Linked DNA regions of Homo sapiens: region 1 is linked to region 2. Evidence: fine-mapped expression QTL. Tissue or cell type: whole blood. Region 2 holds a variant in brackets; the other region holds the start of a gene. All regions are shown on one strand. Distances are between the middles of the regions.

Evidence for each region. PIP is the estimated chance that this variant, and not a neighbour inherited with it, causes the effect.
Region 1: PSMD6-AS2 starts here. The variant in region 2 is fine-mapped to the expression of PSMD6-AS2 in whole blood (TOPMed, PIP above 0.99).

What each region holds. Positions count from the first base shown.
Region 1 is chr3:64,000,266-64,008,265 of GRCh38, forward strand. It overlaps PSMD6-AS2 (PSMD6 antisense RNA 2), which reads left to right and starts at 3,757. Exons shown (of 3, transcript NR_038286.1): 1 at 3,757-5,803. It overlaps ATXN7 (ataxin 7), which reads left to right. Exons shown (of 13, transcript NM_001377405.1): 13 at 1-3,197. RefSeq lists an enhancer at 179-680.
Region 2 is chr3:63,879,177-63,887,772 of GRCh38, forward strand. All of the region lies in intron 1 of ATXN7 (ataxin 7), which reads left to right. Among named protein-coding and RNA genes, the nearest start is that of ATXN7, 20 kb to the left of the region's middle. The variant A/C (reference allele first, on the strand shown) is at 4,052.

The DNA of each region.
Region 1 (8,000 bases), 120 kb after region 2:
AAGGCCAAATTGGGTCGGGGGAGGGTGGGAGTGAGGAAGTTAAAATCACTATAGGGAGAAAAAACTTTTTTCAAGATTTCCAAAGAGATGAAATTTTCTTAATCCTTTTAAGTTTTCATAGTAAACAGTATGGCAGATTGGGTTGGTTGTCCTACCTGGTCTATTTTTAAAAGTCACCTTTTAAAGTGACATTATTAGATACACTTAAATGTTTCCAAGGCACTCTCTACATTACCCTTGTTTTTCTCTTTGGATACTGTCCTGGGACTAAGTGTAGATTTCTGCTTCAAGCACTTCTGGCATTGTGTGTTTTTGTATGCACTCCCCTTCATGCCACTTCAGATGTTTATTTGGATGTGGTTGGGGACGAGAGCAGACACCAAGGAAAGGGAGTTGGAGAGAATGTAAGTCCTGACCTGAAGGTCTTTTGTGATGCATGTATAGGATTGCCCTGACACACACCCTCCTTTCTTGGGATTATACCAGCCATCTTCCTGAGAGTTTTGGAGCCCTCTAGGATATTTTTTCTAGTACCCCACCCCCCACCCCTAAAGAAAGACCTTAATATGTTAAAACAGCATTGCTTGGAGAAGGTGTCATTGAATTCCGGGACGAGCCGGAGCCTTTAAATGGGTGCTTCCACCACTACAGGCTCCTGACACGAGTAACAGGCACTGTTGCTTAGAAGAACACACGAAGTTGCCGAACACAGGGTAAAATTTCCAAGGCGCTGATCGTTGCCCTGGCCAGGGCCTGATGAGAGCCAGTCAGTACATTCTTTTTTTCCTACAGTTCTTGGGTTTCAAACTTCAGTTTCAGGGAATTTCAAGTCAACAACAGGTAGAATGAATAAACTTGGTTACCAGCCTAATAATGTGAATTGCTACAGAATTATTCTTATTATGTAAGAAAACAAAAACTTTATGCAGATACTTTAGCTATAAATTGATGTAAAATACTGATTTTTTTAAAGGAAGGAGAGAACAGTATCTTGTTCAATTATTATGCAATCAATCAGTAAATGTTTTTAAAATGATACTACAGGAGAGCTTAGTAAGGAGAGGGCATGGATGGGCCAGTTTGGCATAGTTGGGAGAAATCAGTCTGGTTTCCATCCCAGTCGGGGAAGAGAGAGGTGAGAGGGAATCAGAACGTACCTAGTTGATTCCTTGGTGACAAGTGCAATGGGGTATGGGTAGAATTTATTTTCAGAGCCAAGAGGACTTGATGGTTATAAATAAAGTTGCCTTTAGCAATGGAATTTACAGATCGATCATGTTGTTCCGAAAGATGTGAATAGGATCCACAATAACAAGTTGATTCAGACTAATGTAGATATTTAGATTAGCAAGTATTGAACATTTGATTTCTTAGACTGAGGTTTTAAATGAATTTCATTATTTCTCCCGGTAATACACAGAGCATCGGGATTAGGAAATTAGCCATTTTGGATTCTGTCTGCCACAAACAGACCTATTCTAAACAGTGCTATTAAATTTTAGACTGTTGTTCAAATATTTTATTTTCTCCTAAACTACTTTTTATGGTGATGAATAATTAAGACCATTTAAAACACGGGAGTACAAGTATTTTTTTGAATTAAATTAACTTGCAAAAACCAAATTTGCAGTGGTTGGGTTGTTTCTAGACAGACTTTGGTATCAATTTAAAACCAAGATAATTTTTATATTCTTTCCAATAGAATTTCATGACAACTCCTGCAGTTTTCTTAACCTACAAAAAAAAAAAAAAAGTGCTGCAATGATGAACAAAGAATTATACAAAACCTACTTTTGTATCTTTATTTTGGAATTTCTTGTTCTATTATAAATATGGAAGTATCCCTATTTCAGAAGACATATTTTGTTAAAAATGAATTGTACATATTTAAATATGTATTTTTGCACAGGTCTTTTTTTCTGATATCCTGTTTTGGTACAATTGAGATCATCTAGTATTTATTTATTAATTAATAAAAGTAAATACCTTTTTATAATTTGAAGTGGTTCACTGCCAAGCCAATAGTTCTAGAACCTGCCTCCTTTACAGTTTTAAGGGATGCCTCTGTTCTGTGAAAAGTCTTTGTCCCTTTTAGTGTCTCGGGAGTGGATTCATACAGATGAAGTGGGCATTGCTTCTTCCTGGTTGCCTGGTTTCCCGATAGACTACATGTAACTAAGTGACACACTGCTTTTCTTTTGTTAGTATTTTATGTGTGGGAGTATGTGACTGCGTGTGTGTGTGCCTGTGCGTGTGTGTGTATACTCAGCACATGTATGTTACTATGTGATGTGGTTTAAAACTAATGGAAAAAACTGAAAGTGCCTGAAACTAGTTTTAAGCTTAGACAGAATCTCTTTAAAAAGACTTGAATGTTCAGTTGAACTTTTGGAGTTTGCTTTTTCCACCTAAATATTGTTTCTAAAATTTTAGGGGCGGAGTTGAAAACCACCAATGCTGGTAATTTTATAAGGTATTTTAAAATTAAGACCTCTTGGTTCATAGTAATTCAATTGGTGATGGATTGCCTGGTGGCACCAAGGGTTACAGATCTTTTTGTCAGCCAGCAACTTACACGATGTGTCCGTTTTGTTATTCACTCATGAAATACAATTTAAAATATTTAAAATATTTTGTATTCCAAAAATATAATACAAAGAAGTACCTCTGAGAACATTGAAAAAAATGTATAATTTGAAAAATGTAACTTATAAGGGCAGCTGTCTTCCTGCAAGAGTTCTGTTGCCAAGGAATTTCTTAATGTCGCTCATTCTGTCCAGGGGGTTTGGGGCGATTGGGCTTTGAAAAAATATTCTTAAAAGTTTGTTTAGCAGAAAATAATCACTTTTACATTTTGTGCAAAACATTTTACATTTTCAGATAATTTAAATGAGCACTACATACTGTCAGTGTGAATGTAGGGCCTTGAAAGCATTTTGCTTTTTTTTTTTTTTTTTTTTTTTTGAGCTTGGTTATAAAAGCAATCTCCTGTGTTAAAAACGTGTGAATAGTTTGATAATTTGTACACATAATCAAGAGCATCTCAGCTGGACTTTGTGTTGGCTGCTGTATAGAACATGAACAAATGTCAAGGGATAGAAAATTACTTTGGATATTTAAAAGAGAAGAAATATATAGTCTATTTGTTTTGTAACAAGTTTCTGTAAATAAAATAATTTATACTATTTATAAGAAAAGGTTGTGCTTTGCTTTATAAGAAATTAGCTTGTGGAACAAACATGTTACTAAACGGGCAATAAAATTAGGACTTCTCAATAAATAAGGTTGGCTGCATGAAATATTGTACGTTTCTGCCTCGTTGTGATACTAAACCCTTTCAGTCTACTCTGACTTTTCATCACTTTTGGCATGGAACACCCTTGTGAAGCCCCTTCAATTTAGCCTTCCTCTTATATAAGCTAAATACTTCTAAGGCCTGGGGATGTTTCCATCTGGGGGCACAAAGCTTTGCTTTGGATAAATTAGTAACTGTGTAAACAGTGAACATTACTGTATTCTGGCCTTGCATGTTTGTGAAAGAAACGAGGGAGTTGATGGATTGAGAAACACATTCTATTTGTACTTAGGTGCAAATTTGATGACATGTAGTTTTGGTTTAAGATAAGCTTTTTATCCAGACCCGGTCTAATCTCTTCCTTTCTTTTACATACCTCCCTTACTGGCAATACAAGTGCATTTTAGTATTATTTGGAACACAGCATAATCATTTACCTCTAGAAATCCAGACATTTTTACTGTTTGCAAATAAACCATTCTGATAAATTATTTTTGTTGCTTAAAATAAGAGGAGGAACCGCTGTGTGTTAGCAAGAATGTCCATACCTGATATGAAAGAGTCATGTTGGCTTCAGTTCCTACTGCCCTGTGGACTTCCCATTCCCTCCTTACTTGAGTCAACCATCCACTCAGTACTTTCCACAAATCTAATAATGAGGTGCTCTCTGTAGGTAAATCCTTTCACTATGGCTTGTCCTCAAACCTCCCAAGAAAAGGTTCAACTGCTCAATCTCTTAACCTTTTTAATTCCATTCCCTTGCAGGTATCCCGGCCCTGCATAACAAGATGATCCCAACTCAAGGAAAGGGGTTTAGCAGTGTTGGATCTTGGCGTATGTGGGATTTAACCAGGCAGAAAGGCAGACAAGAGTAAGATTCTAGGCAGAGAGAGCAAATGCGTCGAGCATGGGTATGAACATGTGAGGGATAGAGAATAATTCTGCAGGAAGTTTGCTGGATGGAAGGGCCTTATAGGGTTAGAAAAGCTGGTGTCAGATTGTCAAGGACTTTGAATGTCATGGGGCTTCTCTTCCAGGAACACATGGGATCAGGCTTAGATTAACCCAAATGTAATTGTCAGAGCCCAGAGATATTTCATGGTCCAGTCCTAGCACTGTGCAGCTGCCAAAAGTCAAAGCCATTCAAATCTGTACTGAAAACTGTGGAAAAGCAAAGGAGCACTTAAGTCTCTTTCCCCATGTCTTGCATTCTCACTCTCTTTTGCTTCAAAGATCTGTCTTTACCTGCCCCTGTCCCCAGTCCTAACAAAAAGCACTCCCCTAAATCAACTCTTAAGTTCCTCTCCCTTCTCACTCCTTTCTTAGTCTCCTCTTTCTGTAAGAAGTTCTTGCTCCTGTTGTTAATGGAAGTTAATTAAAGTAGTATTTCACCTTGTAAGGCTGTAATTCTTGGCACTTGTTATCCTCATTTTCTACATCCAAAGACCATGGACCAGAATATCTCTTAGGAGGTAAGGGAGAGTGAGGCTATCAGCCAAAGAAAAAGTCTCCAGGGGGAAGGGGAGAATCACTTATAATTTAATACTTTGTGGAAAAAACATCTCTGCCACCTATGGCCCTCCAATAACAATGGAAGACAGAATCAACAGGTGAGAACCTTGGGACAAAAATAAGTTACAAAGCTGTTGTAATCCAGGTAAGAGCTATTAAGTTTCCAAACGAAGGCTGACTGTGAGGATAAGTGATACTGATTTCAGAAATCTTTAAAAAGTAGAACCAACAAGCCTTGAGGTCTAACTCTGTTCAACATTAAAGGGAAGAGTGAGTCTAAGAAGACTTCAGGTTTCTAGCTTGGCCAAACCAATTGAGCTTTAAGTGAAATGTGCGATATGGTAACAGAGAAGGAAAAAGACATAACGATAGATTTGAGCTGCTGGTGGGAAATTCTGGTTTAGTGCCCAGCTGGCTGTACAGGCTGGTTGGACTTTAGGAGGGAGGTTTGAGCTGGAAAATAAAGATGGAGAGTTGTCTTTCAGTTTTAGATCATCAGTGAGGTCATAAGGGTAGATGGAGTTTACCTGGGAAAATTAAGTAGCTATTCGATTTGGCTTATTATTATGTTAAAATAATACTTCTCTAGTGAAGTACTTAATATGCCAGATACTGTGCCAAGCATTTTATATACATCCTCTCTTTTACTAAGCCCTCATAGGGCAGGTATTTTGATTCCAATCATACTGATTGGAACTCCTAAGAAGGTATCTTGCTTAAGGTCCCACAACGAATAGGTGGCAGATCCAGGGTAATTCAGGTCTGTCAGAACAGTGATTCTTAATTTTTTCCCTCCTCAGACTCCAGGAGTCACATGAAGTTATGCATCCTGTCTGACCGAGGCACAGGCACACCACATTTTTATATTCCGCTTCCAGGATATCACAAACCTGAAGCCCATCCTCCATGGCCCAGAGAGAAAACCCAGGACAAAACCTTGGAGAAGACTATTTTCATGAAGACAAATGGAGAAGGAGCAGTAGAGTAAAAAGAGAGGTAAGGGAAGGCATTGAGATGGTTTACAGGGTTAGATGTTTTGAGTCAATCCCATTATAATTACCAATGCTATCTACCTATTTAGTTAACGTTTTATTGCCCTGCTGTTTTCTCCAGGATAATTGGAACAGCATGTATTGGTTGGGTGGAAAAGATAGAACTTGAGCAGGGAGATTGCCAAAGAGTGAAGATGTGGCTGAGTGATTGATGATGGTCTGAACTGGGTATTCAGGGAAGAGAACTAGAAGCCAACCATGTAGAATCTATGCAGGTGCTCTTAAGACATTGGTTTGACTGGAATTATCTTCTTGTTAGGTCTTAGGAATCTCCTTCCAGGTAACTTTTTCTATGATTAGACAATTGATTTGTTCAGGGTCACAGAGCAAAGTCCACATTTAATTCCACATGGCCAATAAAAGTGAGGGGCTACAAGGTGAGATCCAGGGGCCAGAGTTATCAAAGTGATACAGCACTTTTAGGAATAGGACAGGGAATGGAGGAATTGGAATTCCAGTATTACTTTCAAAAGCAGAACTGGCCAGAGGAATTGGAATTCCAGTATTATTTTCAAAAGCAGAACTGGCCAGAGGTGCTTGTGATTCCTGGGTGGAAACCATGGCAGTGGACAGAAGCAGCATGGAGGAAAAGAGCACTGGAATTCAGGCTGAGGAACTGTGAAGCCAAGGGTGTTGTATAGGTTGTCCATTTCAAATTAGGGTTGCTTGGTTCTGGGATGATTTGCATGGAAGAGGGGAGAGTGACTTGGAGATGTGTGATTGAGGACAGTGAGCACAGTGAGTTGATGGTGTTGCTGGGTTATAAGCAGCTTCAAAGAGAAGGCATTTTGAATGAAGGTGGAAACATAATGGCCAGGAGAACAAGCAAAGGACTAGGAAACAGTGAACTTCATCTTGGCCTCAAGTTCCTGAGGTGCATATGAATAAACAGTCTCTAACCCAGAGGGTTTCAAGAAAAGCAGAGTCCTCAAAATCCAAAGGTAGAGTTTCCCCACATTGATATTATACTAATTACACGTATAACAGTACTTTGGAAAAGCACAGGTCTCTGGTCACCTCTAAAAGGCAAGGTTGGTAAGGAGGTCAGGGTGTCACCTGTTGGTAGTCTTAACTAAATGGTCTCTTCAAGGGATCTAAGGATGGAAAGGGGATATATAATGGTTGGATTAAAGGCTCATCATTGATTAGCAAATTGTCCCTTTTGTTTCTTAAACCCAATTTGTACAGGGAAAGTTATGCCACTGTAAGATATTTTTAAATGGGGAAAAAAAAAAAAAAAAAAAAAAGGTTATACCCTTTGACCATGTATGTCAAGGTTAAAATGGCCTGGATCAGATTGCTACAAATTCCTGATAGCCTTTGTATTCCTTCAGAAACACAAGCATAATGCAAATCTGTGGCTCTACAGCTTTGAAACCAAAACTAGTGATTATCAGAGCTTTTCATGTTATCCAGATGGGGATTTTACCCCACTCCCCCATTGCCATTGTGGAGGCACAGGTTTGTTACCAGCAACTACAAGTTTATGTAGCATTGGGAAGGTCAGGGATTATCATAGTTCCCTCCACGCTTTTTCCCCCATAATCATGGGGGCAGATATTTCAGCTGTCAGCTGTTCATCTTAAAAACATTAGGTTAACAGCAGCACCAAGGACTAATTCAGAATATGAAATTACAGAAATGATTTGCTAATGATTTAGTAGCCTTTTATCAGTTAATGTTTGGTCAGGTTATAAAAGACCAAATGTGTTCAGTCACAAAATCCTAAGTGTATTGAGTATTGCATGCTTAGTGATCAAGTTGTAGGCATCCTTCTAGCCATCTGGGGCAGGTAAAAGTTGGGTGCTTAACAAAAGTGGTTTTTACACTGTTTCTGTCCTAAGAGACACTGTTTTTTAATAGCTTAAAAATTGACCTAAAGCTGTTATTTCTAATACAGGAAATAGATTACCATAATTTGACATAGCTTTAAAATATTTAGCTCTTACTCGATAGATTTGCTATAAAATCAACTTTTACTGAGGTAAGAGAAACTGGCATTTCTGCTTTAAAAATAATCACAAAAGATAGTTTATCCTGGCGATATCATTTCACACTAGGATAGTTACTTTTGACTGAAACCAGGGTTAAAAATAAGATTGTTTCCCACTTCAAAAGAAAACATTTACCAACATGAAAAA
Region 2 (8,596 bases):
TTCTATCTTTTAATATAAATAGCCCAAAGAGTTACCCTACTCTTATCAGAGAAATTAAATATTCAAAGAGAGAATCTGAACAGTTCTCAGAAGAATTGGAAAATCACTGAAAGACCTTCTGTTGGGGCATTTTGTTCTTGGTTAAAATTAAACTAACATTTAAAAAATATGCATATGAACTGTACAAGTGATTTATCTTAAAATATAAAACTTGTACTTTTAATGACACATTGCTGAAATGTGTTTTTTATTATTAAGGTTAAGGTGCAAAAGGAAAGTGCAACTTAAGTCCTTATGGATTATCTCTTCAGTTTTTTTTTTTTTTTTTTTAAATAGAGTCTTGCTCTGTCACCCAGGCTAAATGAAGTACAGTGGCGCGATCTCGGCTCACTGCAACCTCTGCCTCCTGGGTTCAAGCGATTCTCCTGCCTCAGCCTCCCGAGTAGCTGGGATTACAGGCGTGTGCCACCATACCCAGCTAATGTTTGTATTTTTAGTAGAGACGGGGTTTCACTATGTTGGCCAAGCTAGTCTCGAACTCCGGACCTCAGGTGATCTTTATAAGGCAGAGTGAATTAGCAAAAAGATTCTTATTCCACCGATCTAGAAATACAAGAACAGATGTGGCCAGTCGCGGTGGCTCATGTCTGTAATCCTAGCACTTTGGGAGGCCGAGGCAGGTGGATCACGAGGTCAGGAGATCAAGACCATCCTGGATAACATGGTGAAACCCCATCTCTACTAAAAAAAATACAAAAAATTAGCCGGGTGTGGTGGCACGTGCCTGTAATCCCTGCTACTCGGGAGGCTGAGGCAAGAGAATTGCTTGAACCCGGGAAGCAAAGGTTGCGGTGAGCTGAGATCGCGCCACTGCACTCTATCCTGGGCAACAGAGCAAGACTCCGTATCAAAAAAGAAAAAAAGAACAGATTTTTAGCTTATCAAAAGAGAGTCTGTTTTAGTCCATAACTTTATTGAGTTTTGAGGTTTGAGAAATGGGAAGATGAATATTTACTCTGTAAATATGAATGGTGAAAAGAGGTCCACACTTACCTATAATAATTGGTGCTTTAATAAAAGCATCAGCTGTGGGACTAAAAAAGAGGGAAAAGTGATGTAGTCTGTCTTTATCAGAGATTCTTTTAGACAGGTCACAAATATTTATCAAAAGTCTACAGTTGCCGTGTCCTAGAAGTACAGATGAAAAAAGTGCCAGATAGCCCTGACTCAAGGAGTTGGTGTCAGAGTGAGCCTTTCATTGCTGTTTCCTTAAGGGCAGCCAGTCTTTTGGTGCCTTTCCATTGCCTAGAGGAAGGATGATATCCAAAACTTTGAACAGATCTTTCAGTGGTCCTCTGATCTGGCCCTGCCTGCATCTTCTGTCTCACCAAGTGCTCTGGCTTTTTAGTTCCTTGAACTTGCTGTTCTTCCTCAATGTCTTTTCTACTGAGATTTCATTTGTCTGGGGTGCTTGCTGCCACCCTCATCTCCCTCATACCTTTTTGCCTCCTTTAAATGCCACCTCTTCACAGAAGCCTTCCCTGACCTTCTAGACAAAATTCAGTGACTTTGTTACTTGCTTTAAAACCCTGTGTATTCAGACACGCCGCCCTTCTCATTCAAAGCACTCTTTCAATTTATTTGTGTAAAGGTTTTATGGCTTTCTTTCCTACTAGAAGTAAACACCATGAGAACAGCGTTCATTGCTGTCTGTTTCACAGCTGTCTCCTCAGTGCTGAGCATGGCGCTCAATAGATACTTGCAAAAAAGGGAAAAAGAACTGCTTTCAACCCAACCCCTACTACTCACCAGTTGTGTGACCTTTAGTGGTTTGCTTCTTGGAGTCGCAATTTGTTATCTGTAGAATGGGAATAATGATGATAATGGCTATCATTTATTGAGCAGTTAGTATGTGCCAGACTGTGCTTTACTTGCATTATCTTTTCAGTTAAACCCCATCAGAGAAGTGAAAAGATTTGCTTGAGGTCACATAGTTTGAAAATAGAAAACAGGATTTAAACTCTGGTCTGTTTAATTCAAAAAAATGGATTACTCTTAGCCATGCCTTTTTGTGATTGAGTAGTACCAATGCTGAGAATGCTGAGGTTGAGGAGGGAGTAGGTTTGGAATCTCCTAAACCATTTTAGGGAATCGGTATGGGATTAACTCTGCCTATTTGAAGAGATAAGTGACCTCTAAACTGATTTCTGAAGAAGTTAGTTGGGTCTAGAAGCAGCCAGAAGTGCAAATACTCTAAGAGAACTTTTCAGTGTGCTGGAAACTGGCCTTGTTCATTGTGGTTGGAGCATTTTTTTTTTTTTTTTTTTTTTGAGACGGAGTCTCGCTCTGTCGCCTGGGCTGGTGTGCAGTGGTGCAATCTCAGCTCACTGCGACCTCTGCCTCCTGGGTTCAAATGATTCTCCTGCCTCAGCCTCCTGAGAAGCTGGGATTATAGGTGCCCACCACTATGCCCAGCTAATTTTTTGTATTTTTAGTAGAGACAGGGTTTCACCATGTTGGTCGGGCTGGTCTTGAACTCCTGACTTCGTGATTTGCCCGCCTTGGCGTCCCAGAGTGTTGGGATTACAGGCGTGAGCCACTGCACCCAGCCGCTTGATTGGAGCATTCTACAGGGCTAAGAACTATAAGGTTGGGCCAGAGAGTAAAGTAAAGGGGCTTACCGGCTGCTGGGCCAGGCTAGGCCAGGGAGTTACTTTCTGCTAAACACTGTGGGGAGTCCTTGATGGATTTTATTTGTTGAAAATACTTTGGAAGCAGGAAGTCCCAATTTGGAGTCCATCTTGGGGGCAGAAGTATCCAAAGCCCTTCTCTCAGTTTGCATCTCTAGCAAAGAACACATTTTAACTAATAATTTCATTCTGCTGCACCCAGTGTGACAGTGTTTGAAAAGGAACCAGCATTGTGAGGTGAGGAATGGATTTTTATGTTTAGTTGCAGCAGTATAATTTTGCTGCTGCTGTTACTGTTTTCCTTTGGGGACAGATTCCCTAACCCAGATGGATGGCAACCTTACACAAGTTACTTCACCTCTCTAGCCTGTTTCTCATCTGGAAATTAGAGATAGTTAAAATATCTATCTTGTCAGCTTGTCGTGCAACATTTACACAGTGCATGGTATAAAATGAACTTTTAGGCAACATTAACGGTTATTGTTTTTAATATGACCTATCCATTCTGGCCTTTGATTCTTTTTTTTTTTTTTTTTTGGGTCGGAGTCTTCTCTGTCACCCAGGCTGGAGTGCAGTGGCACAATCTTGGCTCACTGCAACCTCCGCCTCACAGGTTCAAGCAATTCTCGTGTCTCAGTCTCGCAAGTAGTTGGGAATGTAGACATGTGCCACCATGCCCAGCTAATTTTTTTTTATTTTTAGTAGAGACCGATTTCACCATGTTGGCCGGGCTGATCTTGAATGGCTGTCTTAAGGTAATTCACCTGCCTTGGCCTCCCAAAGTGCTGGGATTACAGGTGTGAGCCACCAAACTTGACCTCTGGCCTCTTAAATGAATATGTGTTGTTTATTTATCAGACAGGTTGATTGGGACATAGGTGCTGACATTTTTAAAGATCATGATTTTAGGATCTTAGAAAGTAAAACTGGCAATTAAAAAAGGCAACGAACACCTTAGTGAGGCAGTTTTGGTGTTTCCTAGATGTGTTTAGGATGAACACATAGATGAAATGCATAATATGAACATGAGCCAGTACTTAAAGAGCTCGTGGTGTGTGCCAGGAGTGTGTTTTCCATGCATTCTTCCTGAGAAGTAGGTTTGATTATACAGTATCTATTTTACAGATAAAGGTTGAGGTCTTTTCTTTCTAAGGTGTTATTAGACAGCTATAGACATGGACACCAAAACTTGTTGAGCCTTCAGCATTGTAAAGGCTTGGCTTACCTTCCATCAACCTCAGCAGTTCTGCTGGAAGGGAAAAATGGAAACAGGGCCCTTAATTTTTTCTCATTATTGGATTAATTGGAAGCACTAGGCATGGTGTGCTGCCTGGTGGATAGTAGAGGCTCAGTAAATGTTT[A/C]TTGAATATAAATCTGAATCAGACCAAGTGAAAAAAAGATAGAGAAAAGCAGTATTAGATCCTGGCCCCAGACTTTAAAAAAGTCTGAGGTCACCAGAGATTTTATTAGCATAGTCCATTTGTTAATATTGCAGGTTAATGGTTGGTTGAAGGCTGAGGTGAAGAATTGTCCAGTGTGTGTTGCATGGGATTAACTCCAGTCTGGGCAATTTAGTTATCTCTAGAAATCTGTTCACTTCCCACTAGGTACCCCTGCTGCTCAAGAAGCTCCAGGCTCTGTGTTTGTGTTCAGCTGATTCATTTATTCCCAATTAAAAAAAAAAACAAACTAGTTGTAACATTAAAATATGCAAATAAGATAGGTGTGACTATCCTAAATAATCCTATGTAACTATTCTATTTAAACATAAATAGGAAGGTATAACTGCCATAAGTCATCACGAGTGTATTTCAAAGCCAGATCTGATTGATATTTCTGTTTACCCTTAGCTCAGGTAATTAAGAGTTGACACCAAGGAAGTATCATTTAGTATTAAGGGGAGAAAATAGGATACCTTATTGCATAGAATAGCAAACAAGTAGCATTTAATTCTAGATTTCTTCTTGTTTCCCCCAACAACAGAAAAAAAAATATTTTTTTCTCCTGGGGGAGGTTGATTAGGATATTTATTTACCCTGTCAAACCTGAAAGTCAGATGGTAGCCTGATTACCAAGCTTGATTGATTACCAAGCATCCTTTTTGTGATTTATTATTTTATGCCACAAAAGGAAGATACTTGAAGAGATAATTTTGTTCATTTACTATAGAAGTAGTTCATGTAGAAATTTTAAAGTGTCAAACATTAAGACCCAGTGTCCAGATCTTGGTTTCTAATACCATTCTCCATTAAAAGGAGATTCTGTGCCTGAGACAGGGAATAAACAATATGAGCCTGTAGTATCTTCTAGCTCCAGAAAGTAAGAAAATAACATGCGCACACACACACACACACACACACACACACACACACACATACTCTCACACACACACACACTCATTCACTCTCTCTCTCTCCACACACAATGATGGGGTGTGTCAGAGGGACCAAAGAGACAACTGAAAGAGCTCCCAAAGGTCAAACCTAGAACAATTTGAGCAGCTAAAAAACATAGTATTAGATTGTAACCCAATATATAAAATAAATGTAAATAAAATATACAGTATATATATTTTTAAAGGCTCATATAAACATATAAACAAATAATATGTGATATAAAATCATAAATATCCATGAGGCCATACTGGTATAAATAAATGGTTGGATAAATAAGCAAATGGGAGAGAATAGATAAATCTTTAATATAAAAGAACTCCAAATGATTTATGCAGATAATCATCTCTCAAGGAGATGGAACATCACTGCCAATCTTTTTTTTTTTCTTTCTTATTTTTTTGGGGGGGATCAGGTTCTCCATCTGTCACCCAGGCTGGAGTGCAGTGGCACAATCTTAGCTCACTGCAACCTCTGTCTCTTGGGCTCAAGGGTGTCTTCCCACCTCAGCCTCCGAGTAGCTGGAACTACAGGTGTGTGCCACCATGCCCAGCTAATTTTTTTTTTTTTTGTATTTTTTATAGAGATGGGATTTTGCCATGTTGCCCAAGCTGGTCTTGAACTCCTGGGCTCAAGCGATTCACCTGCCTCAGCCTCCCAAAATGCTGGGATTACAGTTGTGAGCCACCACGCCCAGCCCACTGCCCATCTTTTAAGTCTGAGCTGTGCCTAGTGACTTCCTTCCAAAGAGTGCAATATGAAAAGGGAGGAAAGAGACAGCTTCCTGACATTGGCCTGGGCAGTGACTTTTTGGATATCACCCCAAAAGCACAGGTAACCAAAAAATAGAAAAATGGGGTTGCATCAAACTAAAACAGCTTCTGTATAACAAAGGAAATAGTCAACAGAGTGAAAAGACAATCAACACTATGGGAGAAAATATTTGCAAACCATATATCTGATAAGGGGTTGATATCTAAAATATATAAGGAACTCAATAACAAAACAGATAACCCAATTAAAAAAGGAGAAAGAAACTGAATTGACAAGACGTACAGATGGCCAACAGGTATATGAAAAGATGCTCAATATCACTAATCATCAGGGACATGCAAGTTAAAACCACAGTGAGATATCACCTCACTCCTGTTAGAATGGCTATTCAAAAAGACAGAAGATAACAAGTATTGGTTAGTATGTGGAGAAAAGGGAATCTTTGTACATTGGTAGTGGGGATGTAAATTATAGTACAGCCATTAAGAAAAACAGTATGGAGGTTTCTCAAAAAATTAAAAATAGAAAAGAACTATATGACCCATCAGTCCTACTTCTGCATATATATCCAAAGGAAATCAGTATGTCACAGAGGTATCTGCACTCCCATGTTCATTGCAGCATTATTCACAATAGCCAAGATATGGAGTCAATCTTGGTATCCATCAATGGATGAATGGATACAGAAAATGTGATATTTAGGCCAGGCACAGTGGCTCATGCCTGTAATCCCAGCACTTTGGGAGGCCAAGGTAGGTGAATCATTTGAGACCAGGAGTTCAACCTAGCCGGGCCAACATGGTGCAACCCCATTTCTACTAAAAATACAAAAAATTAGCAGGGCATGGTAGCATGCACCTGTAGTCCCAGCTACTTGAGAGGCTGAGCCAGGAGAATCGCTTCAACCTGGGAGGTGAAGTTTGCAGTGAGCTGGGATCACGCCACTATACTCCAGAGCGAGACTGGGTCTCAAACAAAAAAAGGAAAAGAAAATGTGATATCCAGTGTATATATGCAAATAATGTAAGACTGTTCAGCTTTAAAAAAGAAGGAAATCCTTTCATTTTTGACAACATGGGTGAACCTGGAGGATATTAAGTGAAATAAGCCAGACACAGAAAGACAAATACTGCAGGAATCTCACTTACATGTGGAATCTAAAAACATTGAACCACAGAAGCAGAGAGTAGAATAATGGTTGCCAGAGGCTGGGAGTTGGGGGAGTGGTGAGGGAAATGGGGAGATGTTGATCAAAGAGTACAAGTTTCAGTTAGGATGAATGAGTTCTAGGAATCTGTTACACAGTAATGGTGACTATAGTTAATAATACTGTATACTTGAAAATTGCTGAGAGTAGATCTTAAATGTTCTCACCCCCCAAAAGATGAGGTGACAGATATGCTCATTAGCTTGATTTAATTATTTTATAATATATACATAAAAGATCATATTTACACTGTACAATTTTGTCACTCATGCCTTAAAGCTGGAGGAAAATAAATAATCACATGTTGGTATTGGTTCATTAGCTGTGACAAAGATACTATACTTACATAAGAGGTTAACAATAGGGAAAACCAGGTGTCAGGTTTACAGGAACTCTCTGTATAATCTTTGCAACTTTTCTGTAAATTCAAAGTCATCCCAAAATTGAAAGTTTATTTTTAAAAAAGACTATGGCAAGGACAATAGTCTATAGTTCAAGTTTAATTTTCATCCCGTAGGGAGCCTGAGGTAAATAAAATAGTCCTTAGTGTTCTGGTCTTATTATGGTGTAAAGTGGGGCAGTTCTTCCTTGCTGTTGTCTTATAAAGCCATGACAGTTTGTTTGCAGAATCAGAGAATGCAGTATTTCTAAATGTCCTCCTGTGGAATTTCCTACTGGCATGACTTTTTTCCCCTTTGCTTCTGCCCAGTAGCAGTCCCTTGAGTGGCATTTGCTGTCCTAGTTAATCAGAGGGTAGGAGAAATGAAAAACTCTCATCTTCCCACTCCCATGAAGTTTCAATGGGCACTGGAAATGTAGGTCAAATTGCATCACCATAGAAAGGAGCGAACAGGAAGGTATTTATGAAGTGCTGCCAATGTCTCTTTAGATTCAGAGTCATGACGAACTGGTATTGAGCCCGTTAGGTGTGAGATACAGGGAATCAGGGGGCATGTTTGTGATGTAGTGCCAGAATGTTATATTTCAACCAGTGATAAAAGATCTCTGTCTGAAACCTAGTGGAAATGACTTACACTGGCTTTGTTTAATTTGCATCTCCCAGCTTCTGGAATTCTTTTTGTCTCTTATTTATTATTGGCACATTGCAAAAATTTGTATTAATTTAGCCAGAGAGATGTTTGAAGTGTAGAAACTATTGCCATGTATACATTTTAAGAAGTCTATTGTTTCGTAGTCACATAAGTCTAATAATATATTTTGGAAATTACGTATAAACATAAGCACAGTGACATCTTGATTAGCACATAGAAACCTCAAAATATTTTTTCATTTTTAAATTATGTTTAAAGTATCTGTTAGATGGATCTCTGTTTTATTATTTATTTTATTTTATTATTTTTTCTAGACAGGGTCTCACTCTGCCACCCAGGCTGGAGTATGGTAGCACTATCTCAGCTCACTGCAGCCTCAACCTCCCAGGCTCAAGTGATCCTCCCACCTCAGTCTCCCAAGTAGCAGGGACTACAGGCATGTGTCACCACACCCAGCTAATTTTTGTATTTTTTTGTAGA